Linked DNA regions of Homo sapiens. The protein of the gene in region 1 interacts with the protein of each later gene in a pairwise test. Each region holds a gene or a part of one and is shown on either strand. Other genes may lie near its edges. The genes, in order: HCK, FHL5, ZSCAN4, WFS1, MID2, PLEKHG4 and SH2B2.

Region 1 (3,500 bases):
TGATTCTCCTGCCTCAGCCTCCCGAGTAGCTGGGACTACAGGCACGCACCACCACACCCAGCTAATTTTTTTTGTATTTTTAGTAGAGATGGGGTTACACCTTGTTGGTCAGGCTGGTCTCGAACTCCTGACCTCAGGTGATCTGCGTGCCTTGGCCTCCCGAAGTGCTGGGATTACAGGTGTGAGCCACCATGCCCAGCCAGAAGGAGGTGGCTTTATAATGGGAAAAGCCTAAGCGTTTTCATTTTTAACAGGCAAGCATCCCAAACCCATAATACCATCTAGCTAGAAAGAGGAGGCAGAAGAGACAAAACAATGGGGACTGTCATTTGTCAACTTTTGATTGGCTGGTTTTTAATGGGATGTATTGCCACCCCACAATGTAGTCATCTTTTTACTCATCAACCTCATCCACCATACAGAGAACATCTCCAGCAGGGAGCCCCATCTAAGTCATCTTCTAACCCTGGAATAGGGAATCAACAGGTATCTGTTGGATGATGGATGGATGGATGGATGGATGGATGGATGGATGAATGGATGGATGGATGGATGGATGACTGAAGTATATTTTTAGAGTCAAGCTAGACACAAGAAGAACCCACAGCCAAGAACGATGGGTTATGGAGAGCTCCTTGAGGGTAGGGATATATCTTATTTGTTTCCACAGCCCCTTAGGCTGGCACAGGGCTTGAAGAGTCATGAGCATGTGCTTGTCGAATGAATCAAATGAGGGATGGGCCAGGTGCAGTGGTTCAGGCCTATAATCCCAGCATTTTGGGAGGCTGAGGCGAGAAGATCACTTGAGCCCAGGAGTTTGAGACCAGCCTGGGCAACACAGAGAGACCCCCTCTCTACCAAAAATACAAAAAAGAAAAAAATTAGCTGGGCATGGTGATGCGCACTTGTAGTCCCAGCTACTTGGGAGGCTGAGGTGGGAGGATCAACTGAGCCCAGGGAGGCTGAGGCTGAAGTGAGCTGTGATGGTGCTACTGCATTCCAGCCTGGGCAACAGAGTGAGACCCTGTCTCAAAACAAAACAAAACAACAAATGAGGGACGACTGGCCAGGTGTGAGCTGTCTCACCTCTCCAGAAACCCTCCTTGGCAAGACCGTGTGCTTCATTCAACAATATTTATTGAGCACTGACTGCATGCCAGCCTGTGCCGAGGATGCAGAAGCAGACAAAGTCCCCGCTCTCACCAGCTCTCTTCCTTGCAGGGCAGGCAGAGAATGCACGTGTAACCAACCAAAGAAACCAGGTCGTTTTGCTAGTAAAACATGTTCAGAAGGGATTAAAACAGGTTTCCACAAGACAGAGTCACAGCTGGGACCCACTTTAGCCTCTCTTCCCTGACTGGAAGGATGAAACCTGAAGGAAGAGAAGGAGCCAGCCAAGCCCAGAGCCCTGGGAAGAGTATGTGCCAGGCAGTGGTACAGTGTGTGCAGACGTCCTGAGTTGCAAACAAGGCTGGCTTTGCTCATGCCTCTTTCTGGAAGGTAGGAAATAGGATACTTACTCCTCTGTCTCCAGAGAGTCAACGCGGGCGACATAGTTGCTTGGGATGTAGCCCTCCTTCCGGGTGGCCAGGGATCGAGCCTTCCACCACTCCCCGGATCTGAGGGACATGAGGGAGTAAAGGTGTTAGGGACAGAAGGATCATTCTCCAGTCTCCTCAAGCTCCCCAGCCTTGACCTAGAAAACTCCCTGCCTCCAGAAAGCCAGTAGGGTGAAGGACAGGGCTGTGACTATGTCAGCCCCAGCATGTGGCCATGATTAGGGTAGGGATCCTTACAACAGTTCCTGCTGTGCATCTGAGGGTCTGGAATCTCCCTGTCCACAGCCCAGAGCCCTGGGTCTCTGGCTCCACTCCTTTTCCCTGGACTTGCAGCTTTGGTCTTATTAGCTATACCCATGGCAGGGTCCTGTGCCTATAGAGACTCAGAATGGTTCAGCTGGGGCTGAGAATAGGGGAGAGTGGGCTTGGGAGTCCGACCAGGCATGACCACTCCCGTTCTCGGGCTTCAGCACATCCTGGACACTATACCCATGATGGTGAAGGCTGTAGGAGATCCGAGGTGGCAAACTCAGAGATCCAAGGATTTCCAAATGCAAGGTCGACTCGATGGGGCCTGGTCCACAGGTAAAGCCGGTGGCTTAATCGCAGGAGCCCTAGAAAGGCTTCCCTGAGAAAGCGTCACCTGTTCATCTCAGGCTGGACGTGCACTCTCAGTAAGTGCACAATCCCCTTCATCCAGGTTGACAGCAAACCCTTCCTCCACTATTGTGATTAGCTTCTCATTAGACATTTATACCCAGGATAAGATAGCCCATCTATCAGGTTCTTTATGGAAGCACAAAAGAGCACATAGTTGAGTAGAGGAGGCAGGTCTGTCTTAGGGGGAGTGGGATGGGGACTCACTCCTCTAGGACCACCATCTGGTCCCCCTTCTGGAAGCTGAGGTCTTCGTGGTGAATGGCCTCGTAATCATACAGGGCAACCACGATGATGTCCTCAGAGCCTGCTGGGAAGGGAGACACACAGAGGGTGAGGTTTCGTCTAAGTGCATCCACAGCCCTTGGTGACCCTCACCCGGCACCTGGAACAGCTCCGCACCCATCGATATGTGGTTCCAAGTATAAGTAGGCGTCTCACCATGCTGGGTGTGATTCTCAAGTTTAAAGCTAAATATGTTTTGTTCATGTTACTAAACAGCGTTCTAGAAACACAATAGCCTGCGCAAAGCACTTCAGAGGAAATTTTGGGGATTCTCGACAGGGGTTTGACTGTTTGGGATTTATGCCTCAAGCTAAGGGAGAACCTAGCGGAGTCCTCTGCAGGACACATGACTCCACTGCATCTGCTCGTAGATACTTACCCTCCCTGATTCCTGGTGTGTTGCTGTTGTGGCTATTAGGCCCCTGTGGGGAAGAAATGAGAGAAGAGAATGAATCTGACCAATGTGTGGGGACCCGTGGAAGGTCTGTGTTGAGAAGGACACCCAAGAGCATCTTACCCTAGCCCTGCATGTCGTGGGAGGAGGCCCACATACGGCAGGGGACATGCCTGGCACCACACGGCACATTAGGGGCAGAGCCAGCAAACAAAATGGTCCAGATTTTTTGTTGTTGCTGTTGTTTGAGATGGAATCTCACTCTGTCACCCAGGCTGGAGTGCAGTGGCGTGATCTCAGCTCACCGAAACCTCCACCTCTCGGGTTCAAGTGATTCTCCTGCCTCAGCCTCCCAAGTAGCTGGGATTACAGGCGCATGCCACCATGCCTGGCTAATTTTGTATTTTTAGTAGAGATGGGGTTTCACCATGTTGGCCCGGCTGGTCTAGAACTCCTGACCTCCCAAAGTGCTGGGATTACAGGAGTGAGCCACTGTGCCCAGCCAGGATCCAGGTTTCTTGAGCTGTGACCTCGGCCTTCGGTCTTGGATGTACCGGGGGATGCTGCTTGACCCCTCCCCTCAACACACAGTGAAGGGGTCGGTC
Region 2 (3,500 bases), on another chromosome or scaffold:
TTCCCTCACGCTACTAGCACAACCTACTGACATGAGAGTCCCAGGAGTGTTCAGTTTTGTTTCATAAAATGGCCTGTATTGTCACAACCACATTTAATTAACTTTTATTTACTGTCTCAAAGGATCTTTGTTACAAAGACCGGCACTGGCATGAAGGATGCTTCAAGTGCACCAAATGCAATCACTCTTTGGTGGAAAAGCCTTTTGCTGCCAAGGATGAGCGCCTGCTGTGCACGGAGTGCTATTCTAACGAGTGCTCCTCCAAGTGCTTCCACTGCAAGAGGACCATCATGCCTGGTAGGGTCTCAAGGGGGCTCCTGTCTCTAACTGAAGCTGTGATGCTTTTCATTAAGTCCCAGCACATGAGGAGTGCAGCAGCTCCCAAAACCCTGGTTTTGAGAAAGATATCTTTCTTACTCTCTCAATCTTCTTCCGTGTACTTTAGAAATAAAAAGATTATTCATTCATTATCCTTGAACAGGTAAATTACAGTGTTCTGTGTATTTTCATATAGTCTAATTCATAGAAACATTTCAAACCAGAATCTTACCCATAAAATAAAGACAAAATGTATACCAATAACACTACATTAAACACAGTGCCCTAGGCACAATCAATGGCATCAGAAAGAGTGATTCATCATAGGCGATTGGGGCCAACTGCCATTTTGTAGCTTGACACAAACTGTTTTGAGGATCGGTTATTGTTATTCTCTCTTAGGGAAGACAGGGTTCATGTATATCATTCCACTTTTGGCAAGGACTAATTCTTTATATTTTGATCTTCTCAATCTCTATGGTCAGCAGCATAAGAACATAATTCATTCTCTGCCACTCTTGCTCTCTCATTTTCTTATTATGGATTCAGAGAATTTCTAGAAGGCCATAACTGCACAGTATAGTCTCAGTAGTTGTGCTCTGGGCATTTTTAATACCCTTGTAATGATTATTATGGCCCAATTTATCCAAACCATGTGAAACCATTAGGAGTCTCCATTAAAAGTACTTTTACATCTCCAGATTATAGGTTATGCAGAGCTTGAAAAAGTTTTCAGTCTAAGAGTGATTCTCCATCATCATGGCTAAACTTTATTAACCATTTTTTTTTCTCCAGATGAATGGGTTTTTTTGAACCTGAAAAAATACTATTTTTCTAAAAGGACAATTCATTTATCATCTTAACTTAAAACGTTTTTAAGTAATTTGATCTGTATTTGCTTAAAAAATAAAATTATGCTTGACTTATACTAACATGGCCTTACTTTTGGAGTACAGGTTCCCGCAAAATGGAATTTAAGGGAAACTACTGGCATGAAACCTGTTTTGTGTGTGAGAATTGCCGACAACCTATAGGGACAAAGCCTTTGATCTCCAAAGAGAGTGGCAATTATTGTGTGCCATGTTTTGAGAAGGAGTTTGCTCACTACTGCAACTTTTGTAAGAAGGTAATTTTCTAAAGAGGGTGAAGCTTGTGGAAACTCAGACTATTTCTTTTTAGCTGTATCATATATTTAGAATGAACTGATACTATTATGTTATATCTGTAATCAACACACCCATGGTAGTTTGGACTTTCAACATGTCCAAACCACTAGTTGTCACGATGAGCATGACCATCTTTTTTTTTTTTATTAACCATAAAATTCCAGCCACAACAAGAATTTAATATTCCAAACAGCTCAAGTGATTTGGTATTCCAGTTCATTTCACTGTTTTTTGTTGTTGTTGTTGTTTTATTTTTTTGGGATGGAATCTCGCTCTGTCACCCAGGCTGGAGTGCAGTGGTACAATCTCGGCTCACTGCAACCTCTGCCTTCCAGGTTCAAGAGATTCTCATGTCTCAGCCTTCCAAGTAGCTGGGATTACAGGTGCGTGCCACTGTGTCCAGCTAATTTTTGTATTTTTAGTAGAGACAGGGTTTCACCATGTTGGCTAGTCTGGTCTCGAACTCCTGACCTCAGGTGATCCACCTGCCTTGGCCTTCCAAAGTACTGGGATTACAGGCATGAGCCACCACACTCGGCCCATTCACTGCTTTTATACAAGATCTCACGTATTCTGGGAGAAAGCACAGGTCTCTCTTTGAATACAGATGTTTCTTAAAAAATAATGTTTGATCTATTCAGTATTAACTGTTTCAGAGAAATATGGATTTGCCTCACAAAGTGACTAAGGGAACCAAGTTAAACAGGATGTTTAACTTCTCACATTCTTTCTCAGCAATGCAAATGTCTTCTTGACTTGAAGCTTTTGTATTTCCTATGAGTAGGGCAATCGGCTCAAGAGAGTGCCAAGATCATGGGGGAAGTTCAGTAGACAAAAGACAGAAAGAAGACTAAGAGCAGCAAGTTCCTTCACTCCAGTTCCAGGATCATGTAGGGCCTTCTGACTTGGCTTCCCACTCAAAAAAAACATTTTCTAAGAGAAAAAAAAAGTAATATTTTTGAAGTAAACTTCATCCAATTCTTTTTTTATCCTCTAAGCTTTTATGTGAAAAAGTAGCTCTAACACCTTGATGAAGCCTGTCTGCATTCCATAAAATATATATGGAGGTTCTCAAAGAAATCCTTGACCTGCGAGGCATCATAAGTTTAAAATGACACCATAAATTGTCATGAGAAAGCTGAATCATGAAAATACATTGGATTAGTATAGTGGTTTCAAAGTATTTTTTATCTGTGGGTTACTTTGGCAGAACTCTTAAGCCCATTTGTATATCTGGACAGCTGGAAGTCACACTACCACTTTCTATGCACACATATGTGAACACACATGCACATACACACACACACACACACACGCAGTTAACTGTTTAACATACATAACCAATACCACTACTGCATTTAAAGAGGCAGCAATACACTATGCTAAGTTATCATTATTAAATTACACTATGTTGATGGCTGAGAATTACAATTGATCACATGACATAAAATAATCTTATGACTGAGACCTTCATTACTCTACCAAAACACTGGCTTAGAAGGTGACTTTACAAGCAGCAATCAAGCCATATGACATATGAAGCTCCAAAGAATTACCAGGGTCAATGACGGCATTTAAAAACATGCTGGAGCTGGGCATGGTGGCTCACGTCTGTAATCCCAACACTTTGGAAAGCCAAGGTGGGAAGATTGCCTGAGGCCAGGAGTTCAAGACCAGCCTGGGCAACATAGTGACACCCTGTCTGTATAAAAAAAAAAAAAAGTTTAAAAATTAGCCAAGTATGGTGACACGTGCCTGTAGTCCCAGCTACTTGGGTGGCTGAGGCAGGAGGATCACTTGGGCCCAGAAATTCAAGGCTGCAGTGAGCTATGATTGAGCCACTGTACTCCAGCCTGGGTGACAATGAGATCCTATCTCTAAAAAATATACAAAACTTAAAAACTAAAGAAAATAAAATCTTGCTGGAAATAAAATGAATAGGTTTATCTCACTGTTTTGAGAGACAACTGAGTTGGCCAATTTTAGGCTGCATTTCTTAAAGACAGACTAAAACAG
Region 3 (3,500 bases), on another chromosome or scaffold:
TGCTCATGCCTGTAATCCCAACACTTTGGGAGGCTGAGGCAGGTGGATCACCTGAGGTCAGGATTTCGAGACCAGCCTGACCAATATGGTGAAACCCCATCTCTACTAAAAATACAAAAATCAGCCAGGCATGATGGCATGCACCTGTAGTCCTAGCTACTCAGGAGGCTGAGATGGGAGAATTGCTTGAGCCCGGGAGGTGGAGATTGCAGTGAGTCAAGATTGCGCCACTGCACTCCAGCCTGGCTGACAGAGCAAGACTCCGTCTCAAAAAAAAAAAAAAAAAAAAAAAAGCCACACGCACACACAAAACTTAGCTGGGTATGGTGGCACGTGCCTGTAAACCCAGCTACTTCAGTGGTGGAGGCAGGAGAATCCCTTGAACCCGGGAAGTGGGCGTGGCAATGAGCCAGGATCATGCCACTGAGCTCCTGCCTGGGTGACAGAGTGAGACTCTTAAAAAAAAAAAAAAAAAAAACTTGATGTGAAAAATATTTTATAAAGTAGTTACAACAAAATTTATTGTTAAAAGTTTTCTGCTTGAGCTATCATCTCTATGAAACATTGGATTGCTCCCTAACCAGTGAAATAAGGAAAGAAAATATTTCAAACATATTTATAGAGTCTTGATTTTGTTTACAAAGAGTATTCAATAAATTTGGTGGGGATGCAAATCAGTTAACCTCTATGGAAAACAGTATGGAGATTTCTCAGAGAACTAAAAATAGAACCATCATTTGATCCAGCTCAGTATCTACTCAAAAGGAAAGAAATCATTATATAAAAAAAGACACCTGCACTCATATTTTGATTGCAGCACTAGTCACAGGAGCAAAGTCATGGAACCAACCTAAGAGTCTACCAGTGGTTGACTGGATAAAGAAAATGTGAAATACATACCATGGAATATTATGCAGCCATAAAAAAGAATGAAATTAGTCCTTTGCAGCAACATAGTTGGAGCTGGAGGCCATTATCTTAAGTGAACTAACTCAGAAACAGAAAACCAAATACCGCATGTTCTCACTTATAAGTAGAAGCTAAACAGTGGGTACACATGGACATAAGGATGGAAATAACAGATGCTGGGGACTCCAGCGGGGGAGTTGGGAGGGAAATGGGTATTGAAAAATTACCCATTGGGTACAATGTTCACTATTTAAGTAATAGGTACACTAGAAGTCCAATTTCCACCAATATGCAGAATACTTTTGTAACAAACATGCACATGTACTCCCTGAATCTAAAATAAAATAAAATATTCACCAAATATTAGCCTAGGTGAATTTAGGGAGATGTCTATTACAATGCCAATAAACCAAAATGAACTGAATATTGTAATATTGTGTTATCACAAGCAGTTGAAATTAAAACAAAAAAACTCTTTTCACTGTGGCTCACACCTGTAATCCCAACACTTTGGGAGGCCGAGGCGGGCAGATCACTTGAAACCAGGAGTTCAAGACCAGCCTTGCCAACATGGCGAAACCCCGTCTCTACTAAAAATATAAAAATTAGCCAGATGTGGTGGTGCATGCCTGTAATCGCAGCTACTCGGGAGGCTGAGCAAGGAGAATGGGTTGAACTTGGGAAGCAGAGGTTGCAGTGAGTTGAGATTGGGCCACTGCACTTCAGCTTAGGCAACACAGAAACTCTGTCTCAATAATAATAATAATAATAATAATCATCATCATCATCAGAAAATAAAGTATTAGAAACTGAGAGTAGAAGGGTGGTTGCCAGGGGCATGGGGTGGGGCATATGGGAAGATGTTGATCAAATGGTGCAAACTTGATTTATTTTGAGACAGGGTCTCCGTCTGTCAGACAGGCTAGAGTGCAGTGGTGCCATGACAGCTCACTGCAGCCTCAGCCTCCTGGGTTCAAGCGATCCTCCTGCCTTAGCGTCTTGAGTAGCTGGGACTACAGGCACGCACCACACTCAGCTAATTTTTTAAAAATTTTCTTTTCGAGACTTGGTCTCGCTATTTTGTCCAGGTTGTCTTGAACTCCTGGACTCAAGTGACTGCTCCTCACTCTAGCCTTTCTGGGATTACAGGCGTGAGCTACTATGCCTATGGCAAACTTTCATTTATAAAATAAATATGTGGCCGGGCACGGTGACTCGCGCCTGTAATCCCAGCACTTTGGGAGGCCGAGACAGGCGTATCACTTGAGATGAGACGTGGTGAAACCCTTTCTCTACTAAAAATACAAAAATTAGCTGGCTGTGGTGGTGCACACCTGTAATTCCAGCTACTCGGTAGGCTGAGGCAGGAGAATCGCTTGAACCCAGGAGATGGAGGTTGCAGTGAGCCGAGATCGTGCCACTGCACTCCAGCCTGGGCGACAGAGTGAAACTCCATCTCAAAATAAATAAATAAATAAATTAATTAATTAAATGTCACCATGTCCTTCTCAGGCTAGGGAAAAAAAATGAATATGCTCTGGAGATCTGATGTACGGCATGGTGGCTATAGCTAATATATATTGTATGCTTGAAATTTGCTAGATTTTCAGTGTTCTCATGATATAAAAAAGATAATTGGCTCACCCCTGTAATCCCAGTGCTTTGGGAGGCAGAGGTGGGCATATCGCTTGAGGCCAGGAGTTCAAGACCAGCCTGGCAACATGGTGAAACCCCACCTCTATTAAAAATTCAAAAATGAGTTGGGTGTGGTGGCATGCACCGGTAATCCCAGCTACTTGAGAGGCTGAGGCACAAGAATCACTTGAACCTGAGAGGTGGGGGTTGTAGTGAACTGAGATTACGCCACTGTACTCCAGCTTAGGTGACAGAGCAAGATTCTGTCTCAAAAAAAAAAAAAAAAGATAACTATGTGAGGTGATGAATATGTTAACTAGCTTGATCGTGGTAATCATTTTGCAAAGTATACATATATATAGAGAGAGAAGTGTCACATTGTACACCTTAAATATATACAATCTTTGTCAATTATACCTCAATAAAGCTAGGGAAAACAAGAAAAAGAGAAAGAAGTGAATGAAATAGAAAAGACAAGCCAGAATCCATACAAATGACACCTTTCTCTGGCTGAAAACTTATTAGGCACAGACATCTGCAAGGCCACTACCAGCTACACCCACTGTGTTGTGAAAGGATACATTCCTTAGGAAACATTCTTAGCACCTTTTCTGCTTGAATTTTTTTCCCATTAACAGTTACCATTCCTTAGAACTTTACTGCTTTAACCAAAGCTACTATTTTATGTTTATCTGTTTTTACTCCCTGTCCTTTCCTACTGATGTTTAGGATTCAGAAGTAAAAGTGAGTTTGCATTGCTTGAAATTGATTTCTAATCCCAAATCAGATTATCTGGACAACTAGAGACACACCCTTTGAAATCCTGAATGGATAAAGAATTTAATCCCTTTTCTGTTAATATATCATTGCTATTTTTGTGTTTTTTCTCCAATTTTATATATGGTTAACATTTCAAAGATTTGTGCAATTTTGAAAAAAGCAAATTTCATGCCATA
Region 4 (3,500 bases), on another chromosome or scaffold:
AGCAGCATGTGAGGGCCTCTGTTGAATAAAATAAAGCCCTTGCTCCGGCGTGACACGGGTCACGGGATCTCTGCTCACTCTAGTCTCTTCTGATGCCCCCACCGCACTGTTTGCCTTAGTTTGCTTTTTACTCTCTGTGTTGGTTTCTGGGGCATCAGTCCTCTGACTTCGGTGCTGTGGCTTGGGCCTGGGGTGGGGGCTGTGGAGCGGCAGATCTGGGTATGAATCCCAGCTCCACCCATTTGGCTCCCTCTCTTCTCTCCCCTGCCCTCTTCTCCCCTCCCCAGCTCCCTTCCCCTCTCATATTTACTTAACTTTACTCAGTACCAGCGTATTAGTTTTCTAGGGCTTCCGTAAGAAACTACTGGAAACTTGGTGGCTTAAAACAACAGAGGTTTGTTCTCTGATGGTTCTGGAGGCAGAAGTCTGAAGTCAAGGTGTGGGCAGGGTGGGTCCCTCCTGGAGGCTCTGAGGGAGGCTCAGTTCCTCGCCTCTGTCCAGCTTCTGGCAGTGGCCAGTGGTCCTCCTGCTCCTTGGCCACTGTCACCCGTCTCCGCATGGCTCTGTTACACTTCTCTTCCTATAGGCCATCAGCTCTTGGAGCCAGGGCTTCCCTACTCCAGGCTGATCTCATTTCAAGATCCTTAAATACATCTTCAAAGACCTGTTTTTCCAAATAAGGGCACATTCACAGACATTGGTGGGCACATGATGTGGGGCCCAATTCAGCCCCCTGCAGCCAGGCTCCACATGGGTGGGCTCTGGGTGTTGCTATCATCATCCCCGTTTCTTGGATGAGGGAAGGCCAGGGTTGTGTGGCTCATGCCCAGTGAGGCAGGGACTCCAGGCCTCGGCATGTGCAGGTCTGAGATTGTAAGTGCCATGCCATCTGTAGAGTCACGTGGGTGAGTGTCCTCCCATGGTTTCCTCCCTGGAAGCGGTGCTGGCCCATGGGGACTGTACTGAGTGTCAGCGAGATCCTGTATGGAGTGTCTGGCAGCTCCCACCTGCCTCCCTCTGCTTTTCTGTCTCCAGCAGACACTAAGTGCCAGAGCGGGCTCTGCCGGTGCTGGATGTGCCTGACCTTGACTTTTCTTCCAGGCAGGATGGACTCCAACACTGCTCCGCTGGGCCCCTCCTGCCCACAGCCCCCGCCAGCACCGCAGCCCCAGGCGCGTTCCCGACTCAATGCCACAGCCTCGTTGGAGCAGGAGAGGAGCGAAAGGCCCCGAGCACCCGGACCCCAGGCTGGCCCTGGCCCTGGTGTTAGAGACGCAGCGGCCCCCGCTGAACCCCAGGCCCAGCATACCAGGAGCCGGGAAAGAGCAGACGGCACCGGTAAGGGAGCAGGCTGGGAAGCCCAGGCTGGGGATGTTCAGGGATAGCTGGGTGGGAACGGGGTTCAGCCACCCCTGGAGGGTCCCCCCGCCAGGTCCTCTGCAGTTCAGCATTGTGCAGCTCCCATGCTGTGCACAGGCGTCCATCCAGTGGGGCTACCCACCTCCTCAGAGCCTTGCACCTGTCACCTTTGTGGCACCCACTCGAGGTGGTGCTGGTGCCCCCACTCCTCTGCAGTCCTTCTCTTCCCAGGGCCTCTGCAGCACTTCACAGCTTCCATTTGCAACAGCGTCCAAACATGTGGAGTAAATTCACGGGCCCTCTGTAACCAACTAGGGTGGCAGGCCAGAGGTGACAGCCACACTCTCGGGAGTGAGGCCACATGCGGGCGAAGCCCTTGGTGCTGAGTTTCCCCTCTCCCTGAGGGAGACTTGTGAGGGACGGGCGTCCTTCACCTCCATCCTGAGGCGGGATGCTGGGGCCCTGGGTGTTCACAGGCAGAGCTGACTGAGGCCCTTGGTCTTCACAGGCCGAGCTGACTGAGGCCCTGGGTGTTCAAAGCAGAGCTGAGGCCCTTGGTGTTCACAGGCAGAGCTGACAGGCTTGTTGGTTCCTGGGTGGTGATGTGAGGGTGGTGGGTGTGAGCCAGGGGAGTCCGGCCCCTGGGCACCTTCTCCAGCTGACTCAGGCCTCGGTCAGCCTTCACTTTTGCTAGAGAGGCCGCTGCCAGGGAGGCTCAGTCCCAGCTCATCACTGCCCCTCCTGCCCATGCAGAAGCCCCAGACCCATGGTGAGTGCCTGCTGTGTACACCAGCCTTTTCCATGTGCCTGCAGGACTCCTCATGGCAGTCCTGAGAGGGGAAACTGAGACACCGAGTCTAGGTGACTTGCCCAAGAGACCCAGCGGGTGAGAGACGAGGTGCTCGAGTGGTCCAGGTTTCCTTCTTGTCCCAGTCACCCCACTGGCAGGGCCGTGGGGCCTCCCTGCTGTGGTCGCAGCGCGCTGAGGCTCCCATGTACCACTTATGCTGGGCGTGCCCTTGGAAACTCACTGCAGCCCTGGGCCCTGTTTGTCTTTGCATCTCCTTAAAAGATCACTGTGCTCCTCTGCTTTGTTTTGGAGGCCTCTGGGCGGATGAGGGCCTGACCCCGGGATTTGGGCCCAGCCTCACGGCTTCAGGGGAACAGATACCAGGGCTCGGAAGCTTGGTTTCAATCTGGGTAATGAGAACAGCCCGCAAAGGACAGAGTCCAAGACTGTGTGTTTCAGATAAGAAGAGTCAGGAAGCAGCTGTGGTTTGTTTGGCTTCGGTCTCCAATGTGGGGGTGGTGAAGAGCAAGCCCTGGGCGCCGCCTGACAGCCCAGTCCCCACCACTGGGCCTGCAGCTGGGGGCAGTGGGCATCCCGTCTCCCAGTCACTGGTCACTGATGTGGCCAAAGCAGGCCTGGCCCTGCATGCCCAGTGGCCGCAGGGAGGGCAGGGCCCAGGGTCCCTGCCAGTAGCAGCTGCTGCGAGAATCTGTTATTTAGCTCCCCCATCCAGCCAACATAGGTGGGTGAGCATCAGTTGAAATACCAATAGGTAACAACAAGGGTAGCTATTTAACTGACACTTCCCCGAGCTAGGCATCTTTTTAGGGCATTAGCCCACTTGCCTCTTTAACAGCCCTGGGAGGCAGGCTCTGCTGCTGCCCTGTTTTTCAGATGGGAAACCGAGGGATAGAGGGCTTAAGTAGATGACCCAGCGTCCCGTGGTTGGTGAAGGGTGGAGGGGAGATTTAAACATACCGTGGAGCCTGTGCTCACTATGGGCCTCAGGTCATCTGCGCCCAGGGATCCCCATGTCCCAGGCTCAGAGAAGTGCACAGAGCAGGTTGGCCTGTCCCTAGATCAGTGCCTGGCCAGGCCCTGGTGACAGGAGTGAAGGCTCAGTCCTGCCCTCCGGGAGCCCTGAGCAATATGGGAGACAGGAGTGAACAAGGAACTACATTCTGGGGCTCATGTAGCGCGGGGGACAACCCACATTGCAGTCCCCTAGGGGCACCCCAGGAGGGCCTGGTCACTCTTCAGGGCATCAGGAAGACTGCCTGGAGGAGGCATCGTCGGAGCCCCATCTGAGCTGCTCCTTGGCCTGTACACTTGGGAAACAGGAGAAGAGCAG
Region 5 (2,636 bases), on another chromosome or scaffold:
CCCTGCTTCATTCACTTCATATCGCATGATCCCTTTTAGTCTTAGTGCCACTACAAATCTGATTAAGATATGCCCAATTCTAGCCCTGAGGGACCTCCTGGCTTCCTCCCAGTCTCCTCCTGCAGGCCAGCTGTTTTAACAGTAAGTCAGCTCACTTGCTTCTGGTGCTACCCTAATCTTAATCAATGGGTTCCAGCACTGGGATTTTATTTGTTCTTTAATTCTCAACTTCTGCTCCAATCTCTAAAACTGAATGTGTCATGTTTCCTTGAACCCTATATCTTCATTTCTTTGGTCTTCTTGACCATATCATGCTCCTGAAATCAAAGTCTTCTTGATTGGATTTTGAGCTCCAGACCCCCTGGGTCCTTTCTGTCCAGATCACTACCTATTATATGATCCTTGGTTTCCCCTAGTCACTTACCCAATTCCAGGAGAATCCACGGCCATCTTCCTTTTAGTCCTCCCCCAATTCAACTCCAGCGAGAGACAACAAAGAATTCATGAATACATATATATTTATTTAATTCATAATATAGCATTTTGGATGGGCTGGAATATTGTAGAGAGGGATGAGGCTGTGTAATCCACAGATGCTCATATTTCTGTCACTAGGAGAGACACTATTGGTCCAGAGCTCCCAATACAAACAGGCGTGGGGTAAAGCATTTGATAAAAAATAGTCCAACAATAGTCTAATAAATAGTCTAGCCAATAACAACAATACAGCATATGTCTGAAGCTGGCAGACTACACCATAAAAGGCAGTTTTGTCTGACCTGATGGCAATCAGTTTGGCCAACCTGTAACACACAGCCAAATACAGCCATTGGCTCCAAGGCTGCAGTTGGCTTCAGGAGCTAGAAATAAGTGTAGGAGTGGTTCTTACCTACCTGCCTGACACTCTCCATTCCTTGGAGGAAGCAGTATCAAATATTTGAGTTTATTCAAAAGTCCATCCGTGGATTGCTCCATCTTGGTAGTCATATATAAATATGTAAACCATGGAAGTTTAGAAAATTCACCTAGAGTGTTTTAGCCGAAAAGAACAGATAAGTGATTTTGCTGCAATCTGAATTTCACTGCATCTAAAGATACACATAGAATTGTATAATAAAAACACATCCAGATGCAGTTACTCTTACTTACAAGTAGCCAGAACCTCAATGTGGCATTAAAATTTCTTTCATACTCTCAAAACAGGTTTTACTTTATTTTTGATTATTTTTGTGCTTTCTTCAATAAGACAATATAAAAAGTGGAAACAAGCATAAATTGCAGACATAAAATAATCTTCTGGTAGAAACAGTTGTGGAGAACAGGTTGAGTAGAGCAACAACAACAAAAGCTTATGCAGTCACCTTCTTTGAAAATGTTAAATACAAGTCCTATTCTCTTTGTCCAGCTGGGTTTAGCTAGAGGTAGCCAATTACTTCTCTTAAGGTCCATGGCATTGCCAGGATTCTATAAAAGCCAAGTTAACTGAAGTAAATATCTGGGGCCCATCGCACCCCCACTAAGTACTTTGTCACCATGTTGTATCTTAGAAGTCATTTTTCACTGTTTGACTCAGAATTTGGGACTTCAGAGTCAAACTTCATTGCTTACTCCAAACCCAGTTTAATTCCCCACTTTTTTAAGTAGGCTTAGCTTTGAGTGATTTTTGGCTATAACCGAAATGTAAATCCACCTTCAAACAACAAAGTTTGACAAGACTGAAATGTTACTGAAAACAATGGTGCCATATGCTCCAAAGACATTTCCCCAAGATAACTGCCAAAGAGTTTTTGAGGAGGACAATGATCATTTATTATGTAGGAGCCTTGATATCTCTGCAAAATAGAATTAATACAGCTCAAATGGAGTAGTAACCAAGCTTTTCTGCCCAGGAAGTAACAAACATCACTACGAACATGAGAGTACAAGAGGAAACTTTCATAATGCATTTTTTCATTCATACATTCATTCAATAAACATTAGCCAAGCTAATGTTCCAAGCACTGTGCCAGGTATTAACAATATAACAACAATAAAAGACACAGTCCTTCCTCTCAAGGTGTTCAGTCTAGTAGGGAAGATGATTATTCATTAAAATTTTTGGTGCATCAGAATCATGAGGAGCTTGTCAAAAATGTAAATTCCTGCCTATGTTCTCAGATATTCTGGTTAGGTCAGGAGTGGGAACCCAAAATCAATTCTTTTAACAAACACTAAAGGTGATTCTAACACAGGCGGTGTGAGGACCACACTTTGAAAAACACTGCTATACAATGTGATTATTGCTGAGAGAGGGGGATGCTTGGGGTGTCTTTGGATCTCTAAAGAGGGATGCATCATCAAGTCTAAGGAATAAAGAGTTAGTCTGGTTGAGAGAGATAGAGGTGAGGAAAGGTAGTCCAGGATAGAGTCAAAAGTAGGGTGGGGAAATTAGATCTTTGTCCCAGGGCACTAAAATCTAAAAGACACCACAATAAATGAACAGTTTTGGAGAGCCAAGGACAAGGCAAAGGAAATTGTTCTACTGGAATGGAGGTTGCATTTTCTGTACTTACAGCATTTTCACACTATTCCTTTAATTTAAGAAAAATTTCTGTTGTTTACTCTGGGCATTAAAATTGTTAATCATGTTTCTGCTG
Region 6 (3,500 bases), on another chromosome or scaffold:
GGAGCTCAGTCTGAGGGCAAGGGGCTTCTTCCTTGGGGGCCTGTGGGCACACCCCCTTTGCCCAGTACTGTTCTTGCCAAATCACCCCTTGTTCAAAGCAGGGAAGACTGGGTCTGTAGGGGAGGCCTCCCTAAGAGGCATCTACTGGCATTTTGGTCCTCTCAAGCTGAGGGTGGTCTAGCCTGTGCCAGCCTTAGGGAGCTGGCCCCTTTGCACTGGGGCTGAGCCACATGTCCTTGTAGAGGGTGCAGTTTGGGATGTACGCGCTCTACAGCAAGAATAAGCCTCGCTCCGATGCCCTGATGTCAAGCTATGGGCACACCTTCTTCAAGGTAAGTGAACCTGAGATTAGGAGGAGTAGGGGATGCGGGGAGTGCCCCCAAACCACTCAGTGGCCTCCCATCCGCCCACAGGACAAGCAGCAAGCACTGGGGGACCACCTGGACCTGGCCTCCTACCTGCTAAAGCCCATCCAGCGCATGGGCAAGTACGCACTGCTGCTGCAGGAGCTGGCACGGGCCTGCGGGGGCCCCACGCAGGAGCTCAGTGCGCTGCGGGAGGCCCAGAGCCTTGTGCACTTCCAGCTGCGGCACGGAAACGACCTGCTGGCCATGGACGCCATCCAGGGCTGTGATGTGAGTCATCCCAGGGCAAGGGCAGTGGGTGTGAAGAAGAAGGCAGAAGAGGCTGGCCACCCACCAGCCCCCAACTCTGCAGGTTAACCTCAAGGAACAGGGGCAGCTGGTGCGACAGGATGAGTTTGTGGTGCGCACTGGGCGCCACAAGTCCGTGCGCCGCATCTTCCTTTTTGAGGAGCTGCTGCTCTTCAGCAAGCCTCGCCATGGGCCCACAGGGGTTGACACATTTGCCTACAAGCGCTCCTTCAAGGTAGGCCTGCCCACCCCAGGCCCCACCACTTGTTTTCCCGCCCCATGCCTTACCAAGCCCCTCTCTCCCGCTGGCCACAGATGGCAGACCTTGGTCTCACTGAGTGCTGTGGGAACAGCAACCTGCGCTTCGAGATCTGGTTCCGCCGCCGCAAGGCCAGGGACACCTTTGTGCTGCAGGCCTCCAGCCTGGCTATCAAGCAGGCCTGGACAGCTGACATCTCCCACCTGCTTTGGAGGCAGGCCGTCCACAACAAGGGTGGGTCCATGCCCCTCCTTCACGCCACACTCCCCTCACTGGAGAGCTTACATTGACCCACAGGAGCCCAGAGACCTGGGAAAAGCTCGGGAAGTGGGGAGAAGGCCCAGCGACAGCCACCAGTGCAGGAGAAAGGATTTCAAAGCCAGGCAGCCTTGCTGTCACTGCCTCTGACTTTGGACACAACGTGAACTTCTCTGAATATAAGGGGCATCATGGCTCTCTCTCTCTTTATTTTTGGAGACAGGGTCTCGCTCTGTCGCCCAGGATGGCGTGCAGTGGCATGATCTTTGCTCATTGTAGCCTCTGCCTCCTGAGCTCAAGCATTCTTCCCACCTAAGCCTCCCAAGTAGCTGAGACTACAGGCATGTGCCACCATGCCTAATTTGTAAAATTTTTTCATAGAGGTCTCATTATATTGCCCAGACTGGTCTTGAACTCCTGGGCTCAAACAATCCTCCTACCTCGGCCTCCCAAAGTGTTGGGATTACAGGCGTGAGCCACTGCGCCCAGCCAGGGGCCTCATCTTTAAAAGGGGAATATGGCACCTGCCCCACAGGATTGTTGGGAGGAGAGCACCTGGCACTAGAAAGGCTCAGCTCACAGGACAGTTAATGTGCTGGATGGAGGTGTACAGGAAAGACTTATCTGGGGGGTGGTAGAGGCCCAAGGACAGGCTTATGTCCAGAAGCATCCCACTTATGTCCACTCTCCACCCAGAGGTGCGCATGGCTGAGATGGTGTCCATGGGTGTGGGGAACAAGGCCTTCCGAGACATTGCTCCCAGCGAGGAAGCCATCAACGACCGCACCGTCAACTATGTCCTGAAGTGCCGAGGTAGCAGGCAGGCTACAGGGTGTGGGGGTGGGAGTAGGAAAGCTGTGCGGGAAGCACTGTGGCCCTCCATTAGTGCTGGCCCGCACTTTCCTTGGGATCTGGGGCCAGGCTAGGCTCTGGCCTGTCCCAACCTGACCCTCTCTCTTATGCAGAAGTTCGCTCTCGGGCGTCCATTGCCGTAGCCCCGTTTGACCATGACAGCCTCTACCTGGGGGCCTCGAACTCCCTTCCTGGAGACCCTGCCTCTTGCTCTGTTCTGGGGTCCCTCAACCTGCACCTGTACAGAGACCCAGCTCTTCTGGGTCTCCGCTGTCCCCTGTATCCCAGCTTCCCAGAGGAAGCAGCACTGGAGGCTGAGGCAGAGCTGGGCGGCCAGCCCTCTTTGAGTATGTCTGGGCCTAGCCAGAGGCAGGAGGGCATGGCTTGGGGTCTGGGGCTTCCCGTGCTGACAGTTCACCCAGTCTCCCTCCCTAGCTGCTGAGGACTCAGAGATCTCGTCCCAATGCCCATCAGCCAGTGGCTCCAGTGGCTCTGACAGCAGCTGTGTGTCAGGGCAGGCCCTGGGTAGGGGCCTGGAGGACTTACCCTGTGTGAGTGCCATTTGCCCTATACCCACCAGCCCTTCCCCAGCCCAAGCTGAGCCTGTGACTGTGACCAGCCCCTCCCCAGCCCAGGCTAGGCCTTTACTTTGGGTAGAGCTTGGGGTGGGTGGGCCAGAGCCATTCCCCAGACACCTCCTGGGTCCAGAGTCAGGGAAGCAGGCATTCATGCCTGGCCTGGCCCTGCAGGTCTGAGCCCGGGACTGGACGAGCAGTAGATCCAGCAGCCTGCAGCTCCAAGGAACATTGCCTCTCTGGATCTGCTGTGACCAGGGTGTGGCTGACACCTGGGCTACCTCCAACCTACATGTGCAACGCTGTTGACTACCCTTTCTGATGTGTGTGGCCATTGGACTAACTGGCACGGGGCCTCTCTAGGGAAGTCTGGTTGTAGAGCCTGAATAGGCTCCTGGCCCCATGACCCCTTCTCCTGTCCCCAGCTCCCATCCCAGTTGTGGGTTAAGAATAGGCTAGAGCAGACATTGGGTGTTTCCATGCTGTAGGCTGGTGGGGGACCATGTGCCTCTAGGCAGTGACTAGGGTGCCCCCACCCCTCAGGAAGAACACAGGTGGGCTCCTAGCAGCTGATCCCCAATGCCTGGCCTTAAAGCCGAGCTCAGTTACCATAGGGACAGGTCCACCTCTACTGGGCCCTCATGCTTGCCTTTCCTGGCCCCCAGGCCCAGCCCCTTTTTACTGGGGCAGTTTCGTTATTTTGACTTGATGCCTTTTGAATAACTTTCAATAGAATTGTCTAAAATTATCTTACTGGTTGTTAGGCCTTTGGTGTCTCAGAGAAGGAGTCTAGGTCTTTGATGTGTGATTTAATCTTTTATTTGTTTATAATAAAAAATAGACTGATATGTACCCTCTGATGGGCACATGCATTCTGGGCTATCTCCAATTAAAATGAGACTT
Region 7 (3,500 bases), on another chromosome or scaffold:
CAGGCCACGGCCTCTCCTAACCCCACGACCAGCAACCCAGACAAGAGACCCCAGCCACCAGCCCGGCTAGACAGTAGGTCCAGCCGGCATGGGGGAGGGGGCGGCGGCTTTCCGGCGGTAAAAATAGCGCTGACAATTGGAGGACCAAAAAAAAAAAAAAAAAAAAAAAGCCGGTCTTCAGCCCCCGCCCGCGCAGCAATTCCGCACCCCAGGGCCGGGTCATTCCTTAAAATATTTATGAGTCGGACTCGCCGCCCCGCCTAATGGGCCCGCGACCAATCGATGCGCGGCACAGTGGGCGGTGGCCCTGGGGGCGGGGAGAGGCAGGAGCCCCGCCCACCTCCAGCTGGCACCCCCCACCTCCTCCCCAGCACCATCCCAGCCACAGGAGGCCAGGAGCACCGGGAAGAGGAGGGATGGTCAGTGGTCCCACAGGTCAAACTAGCTATGCAGCACCTCAAAAGGCTGCGCCCCACTGCCAAGAGACCCCCCCTTCCTCCTGCACCCTCACTTAGCTCCGTCCTCAGAGCAGCAGTCAGAGAACCAAGTGCATGAAGGGGGAGACGGTCAGAACTAAGGGTTCTCTCCTATGTCCTGGGGTGGGCAGTGCCACCTACCCCCCAATGAACCATTCGCTATGGGGAAACTGAGGCCTTTTCTTTTTAGACAAAGTCTCACTCTGTGGCCCAGGCTGGGGTGCAGTGCACTGCACTTTGAACATAGCTCACTGCAGCCTTGAACTCCTGGGCCCAAGCAATTCTCCTGCCTCAGCCTCCCAAGTGGCTGGGACTACAGGCACAAGACGCCATGGCCAGGTAATTTTTTTTTTTTTTTTTTGAGACGGAGTCTTGCTCTGTTGCCGAGGCTGGAGTGCAATGGCGTGATCTTGGCTCACTGCAACTTCCGCCTCCTGGGTTCAAGCGATTCTCCTGCCTCAGCCTCCCGAGTAGCTGGGACTATAGGTGCGTCCTACCAAGCCCGGCTAATTTTTGTATTTTTAGGAGAGGCAGGGTTTCACCATCTTGGCCAGGCTGGTCTCGAACTTCCGACCTCAGGTGATCCGCCCACCTCAGCTTCCCAAAGGGCTGGGATTATAGATGTGAGCCAGTGCACCCGGTCCCAGGTAATTTTTTGATATTTTGGTAGAGATGGGGGTCTCACTATGTTGCCCAGGCTGGTCTCATGCAGCCTCTTCTTGGGGTACCTCCTTGCCTGACACAAGAGACAAGGCCTCACTCTGCTCACCTCCACCATCCTCAGAAAACCTGCCCAGCCATGCCTTCTCATGTCCACTGCCCTTAGGGGTCCTCAGGACCTTAGCAGCACTGGCCTGGCCCACTCAGCCTCACTCTGGACAACATAGGCTCCTTCAATCCTGCTGTTCCTCAAGCACCCTCCTGGCCTCGGTGGGGCAGTCCCTTCCACCCCTGCAGCCTCCTCTCTGCACCCCTCCCTGGGCAGGACACAGATGCTCTTTGGGCAGGTCATCCCTCCGGCCTGGAGTGACTCCCACCCGCTGACTAGGTATGAGTCTCTCTCTCCCCTGCAGATTCAGGAACACAGCACACAGCGCAGTCTCTGCTTCACTGCTGAATACGTGGGCGTTGGTTTTCAAGCCCGTGTTACTGCTCACCTCCGCAGAGACCACATCCCCACAAGGTAGGCTCTGAACCAGGGCCTCCTGCCAGATGTGGCTGGAATTCCCCAACTCTCCCCTCCCAGAATATCTGAGCTCACTCCACCACCCCGGCAGAAGGCAAAGTAGGCATGGCTTCTGGTCTTAACTTAACCCTTGAACTTGCTGTGACTTTGCTGCAGAGTGGATGGGTGGGGGCCTTCTGGCTGGCGATGGGGACAGGTGTGGATTCAGAGCCCTTGGGACTTGTATGCCTCTGTATGGGTGATTAGGTACTAGTGGTCTTGGCTGTTCTGAGCATTAGTTTCCCTAGCTGCTCTTCCGTGCAGATAACTTTCTAGTCCAAGGCTCGGCCTGAGCAGCATCGCTTGGAGGCAGCTATTGCAACAGCCCTGCACCCAGGACAACCCCAGGCCTCTCATGCCACGCTCAGCCTTTGCCACCGCCACGGGAGGGTGGGAGCCCTTCTGCTGAGCCCCCCGGCTTTTGCAGACATCCCAAGCTTGACAAGCCCTGCTGGCACCGGCGTCTGCAGACCCTCAGTCCCAGGGGTTCCCACAGTTGCCTTTGACAGTTGTTCCCCAGCAAAGGGAGCCCCACTGCCTGGGCATCTCCCTATGGCCACCTCTGGTCATTTGACATGCTGGGACAGTGTTAAAAGTCTGAGATCTGGAGCCAGACTGTCTGGGTTTGGATCCCAGCTGCCTTGCTACCCAGTGAAATGACCCCTTGGACTCTGGAGCCTCAGTTTCCCCATCTGTTAAGATGGAGGTGACAGCAGTGCTAAACTTAAGGGGCTGTCATGAAGATTAAATAAGCAATTTGTTTAAAAATCACAGCTCTATTCATTCCCTTTTCCTCCAACTGCTCTTGGCAGGCAGCTGCAGAGGTACCCACTGCCCCAACACATAAACCCAGCCTCCAATGTGGCCAAGGTCAGCGTTCTAGAACCCACATTTCAGTGGGCCATGCCCCTGTTAAAACCCTTCTCCCCTCACATCTTCCCTGTAAGAAAGAGTTGTTTCTCCATTGCAGAGATGAAGAAATGGGGTTCTGGGGAGGGAGGTGACTACCCACCATGCTCTGGCCACCACGCAGTGGTGAGCTCCCACTGTGTGTCAGACGCCAGGTGGGAGGGTCCAGGGCTGCAGAATGGACAAGAGGGGAGGCCGGGTGCAGTGGCTCACACCTGTAATCCCAGCACTTTGGGAGGCCGAGGAGGGCGGATCACTTGAGGTCAGGAGTTTGAGACCAGTCTGGCCAACACGGTGAAACCCCATCTCTACTAAAAATACAAAAATTAGCCAGGCGTGGTGGTGCACACCTGTAACCCCAGCTACTCAGAAGGCTGAGGCATGAGAATTGCTTGAACCCCAGAGGTGGTGGAGGTTGCAGGGAGCGGAGGTTGCAGGGAGCTGAGGTTGCACGCCACTGCACTCCAGCCTGGTCGACAGAGCAAGACTCTGTCTCAAAAAAATAAAAAAAAAAAAGGGGGGTATGGAGCCAAGTTCCAGGCTGGTCCCTTTCTGAGACCTGTTTCTGGGGAACTCCGCTTCCAAGGGCAGAGTGGGAAGACTGAATCCCTGTTTCAGGAAAGGAAATGACCACCTTTAGAGGATGGGGCACTCTGAGCGGCTGGGTGGGGGGGCGGGGGAATCCACAGCTGGGCTCTGCAGGAAGTGCGGGTCAGATAAGCAGGGAGTGGGGGCCAGGACAACAAGCTAAGCCAGGGCCTGTGGGCTCAAGAGGCAGACTCAGCCTCCTTCAGGAGCACCCAGTGCTGGACAGTTCCTGGATGGGCTCTGCAGGTGGAGGACAGGCTGAGCTGGTTCCAGCTGCACTGGCCCTGGTTACTCCCACCCCA

What was found.
Region 2: the proteins of HCK (region 1) and FHL5 interact in binary tests that used the Homo sapiens proteins (3 or more experiments, as listed by UniProt).
Region 3: the proteins of HCK (region 1) and ZSCAN4 interact in binary tests that used the Homo sapiens proteins (3 or more experiments, as listed by UniProt).
Region 4: the proteins of HCK (region 1) and WFS1 interact in binary tests that used the Homo sapiens proteins (3 or more experiments, as listed by UniProt).
Region 5: the proteins of HCK (region 1) and MID2 interact in binary tests that used the Homo sapiens proteins (3 or more experiments, as listed by UniProt).
Region 6: the proteins of HCK (region 1) and PLEKHG4 interact in binary tests that used the Homo sapiens proteins (3 or more experiments, as listed by UniProt).
Region 7: the proteins of HCK (region 1) and SH2B2 interact in binary tests that used the Homo sapiens proteins (3 or more experiments, as listed by UniProt).

Annotation. Positions count from the first base shown.
Region 1 is NC_000020.11:32,072,742-32,076,241, reverse strand, and holds part of HCK (tyrosine-protein kinase HCK), read right to left. Parts: intron 2,924-3,500; coding exon 2,881-2,923; intron 2,527-2,880; coding exon 2,424-2,526; intron 1,620-2,423; coding exon 1,521-1,619; intron 1-1,520. UniProt on the Homo sapiens protein: Non-receptor tyrosine-protein kinase found in hematopoietic cells that transmits signals from cell surface receptors and plays an important role in the regulation of innate immune responses, including neutrophil, monocyte, macrophage and mast cell functions, phagocytosis, cell survival and proliferation, cell adhesion and migration.
Region 2 is NC_000006.12:96,604,628-96,608,127, forward strand, and holds part of FHL5 (four and a half LIM domains protein 5), read left to right. Parts: intron 1-122; coding exon 123-297; intron 298-1,274; coding exon 1,275-1,444; intron 1,445-3,500. UniProt on the Homo sapiens protein: May be involved in the regulation of spermatogenesis. Stimulates CREM transcriptional activity in a phosphorylation-independent manner.
Region 3 is NC_000019.10:57,671,935-57,675,434, reverse strand, and holds part of ZSCAN4 (zinc finger and SCAN domain-containing protein 4), read right to left. Parts: intron 1-3,500. UniProt on the Homo sapiens protein: Embryonic stem (ES) cell-specific transcription factor required to regulate ES cell pluripotency. Binds telomeres and plays a key role in genomic stability in ES cells by regulating telomere elongation.
Region 4 is NC_000004.12:6,276,350-6,279,849, forward strand, and holds part of WFS1 (wolframin), read left to right. Parts: intron 1-1,101; 5' UTR 1,102-1,106; coding exon 1,107-1,338; intron 1,339-3,500. UniProt on the Homo sapiens protein: Participates in the regulation of cellular Ca(2+) homeostasis, at least partly, by modulating the filling state of the endoplasmic reticulum Ca(2+) store.
Region 5 is NC_000023.11:107,929,502-107,932,137, reverse strand, and holds the end of MID2 (probable E3 ubiquitin-protein ligase MID2), read right to left. Parts: 3' UTR 501-2,636; downstream 1-500. UniProt on the Homo sapiens protein: E3 ubiquitin ligase that plays a role in microtubule stabilization. Mediates the 'Lys-48'-linked polyubiquitination of LRRK2 to drive its localization to microtubules and its proteasomal degradation in neurons.
Region 6 is NC_000016.10:67,286,032-67,289,531, forward strand, and holds the end of PLEKHG4 (puratrophin-1), read left to right. Parts: intron 1-242; coding exon 243-332; intron 333-413; coding exon 414-635; intron 636-717; coding exon 718-888; intron 889-968; coding exon 969-1,146; intron 1,147-1,866; coding exon 1,867-1,983; intron 1,984-2,135; coding exon 2,136-2,369; intron 2,370-2,444; coding exon of another isoform or gene 2,445-2,457; coding exon 2,458-2,573; intron 2,574-2,771; coding exon 2,772-2,777; 3' UTR 2,778-3,449; downstream 3,450-3,500. UniProt on the Homo sapiens protein: Possible role in intracellular signaling and cytoskeleton dynamics at the Golgi.
Region 7 is NC_000007.14:102,289,868-102,293,367, reverse strand, and holds part of SH2B2 (SH2B adapter protein 2), read right to left. Parts: intron 266-3,500; exon of another isoform or gene 181-265; intron 1-180. UniProt on the Homo sapiens protein: Adapter protein for several members of the tyrosine kinase receptor family. Involved in multiple signaling pathways. May be involved in coupling from immunoreceptor to Ras signaling. Acts as a negative regulator of cytokine signaling in collaboration with CBL.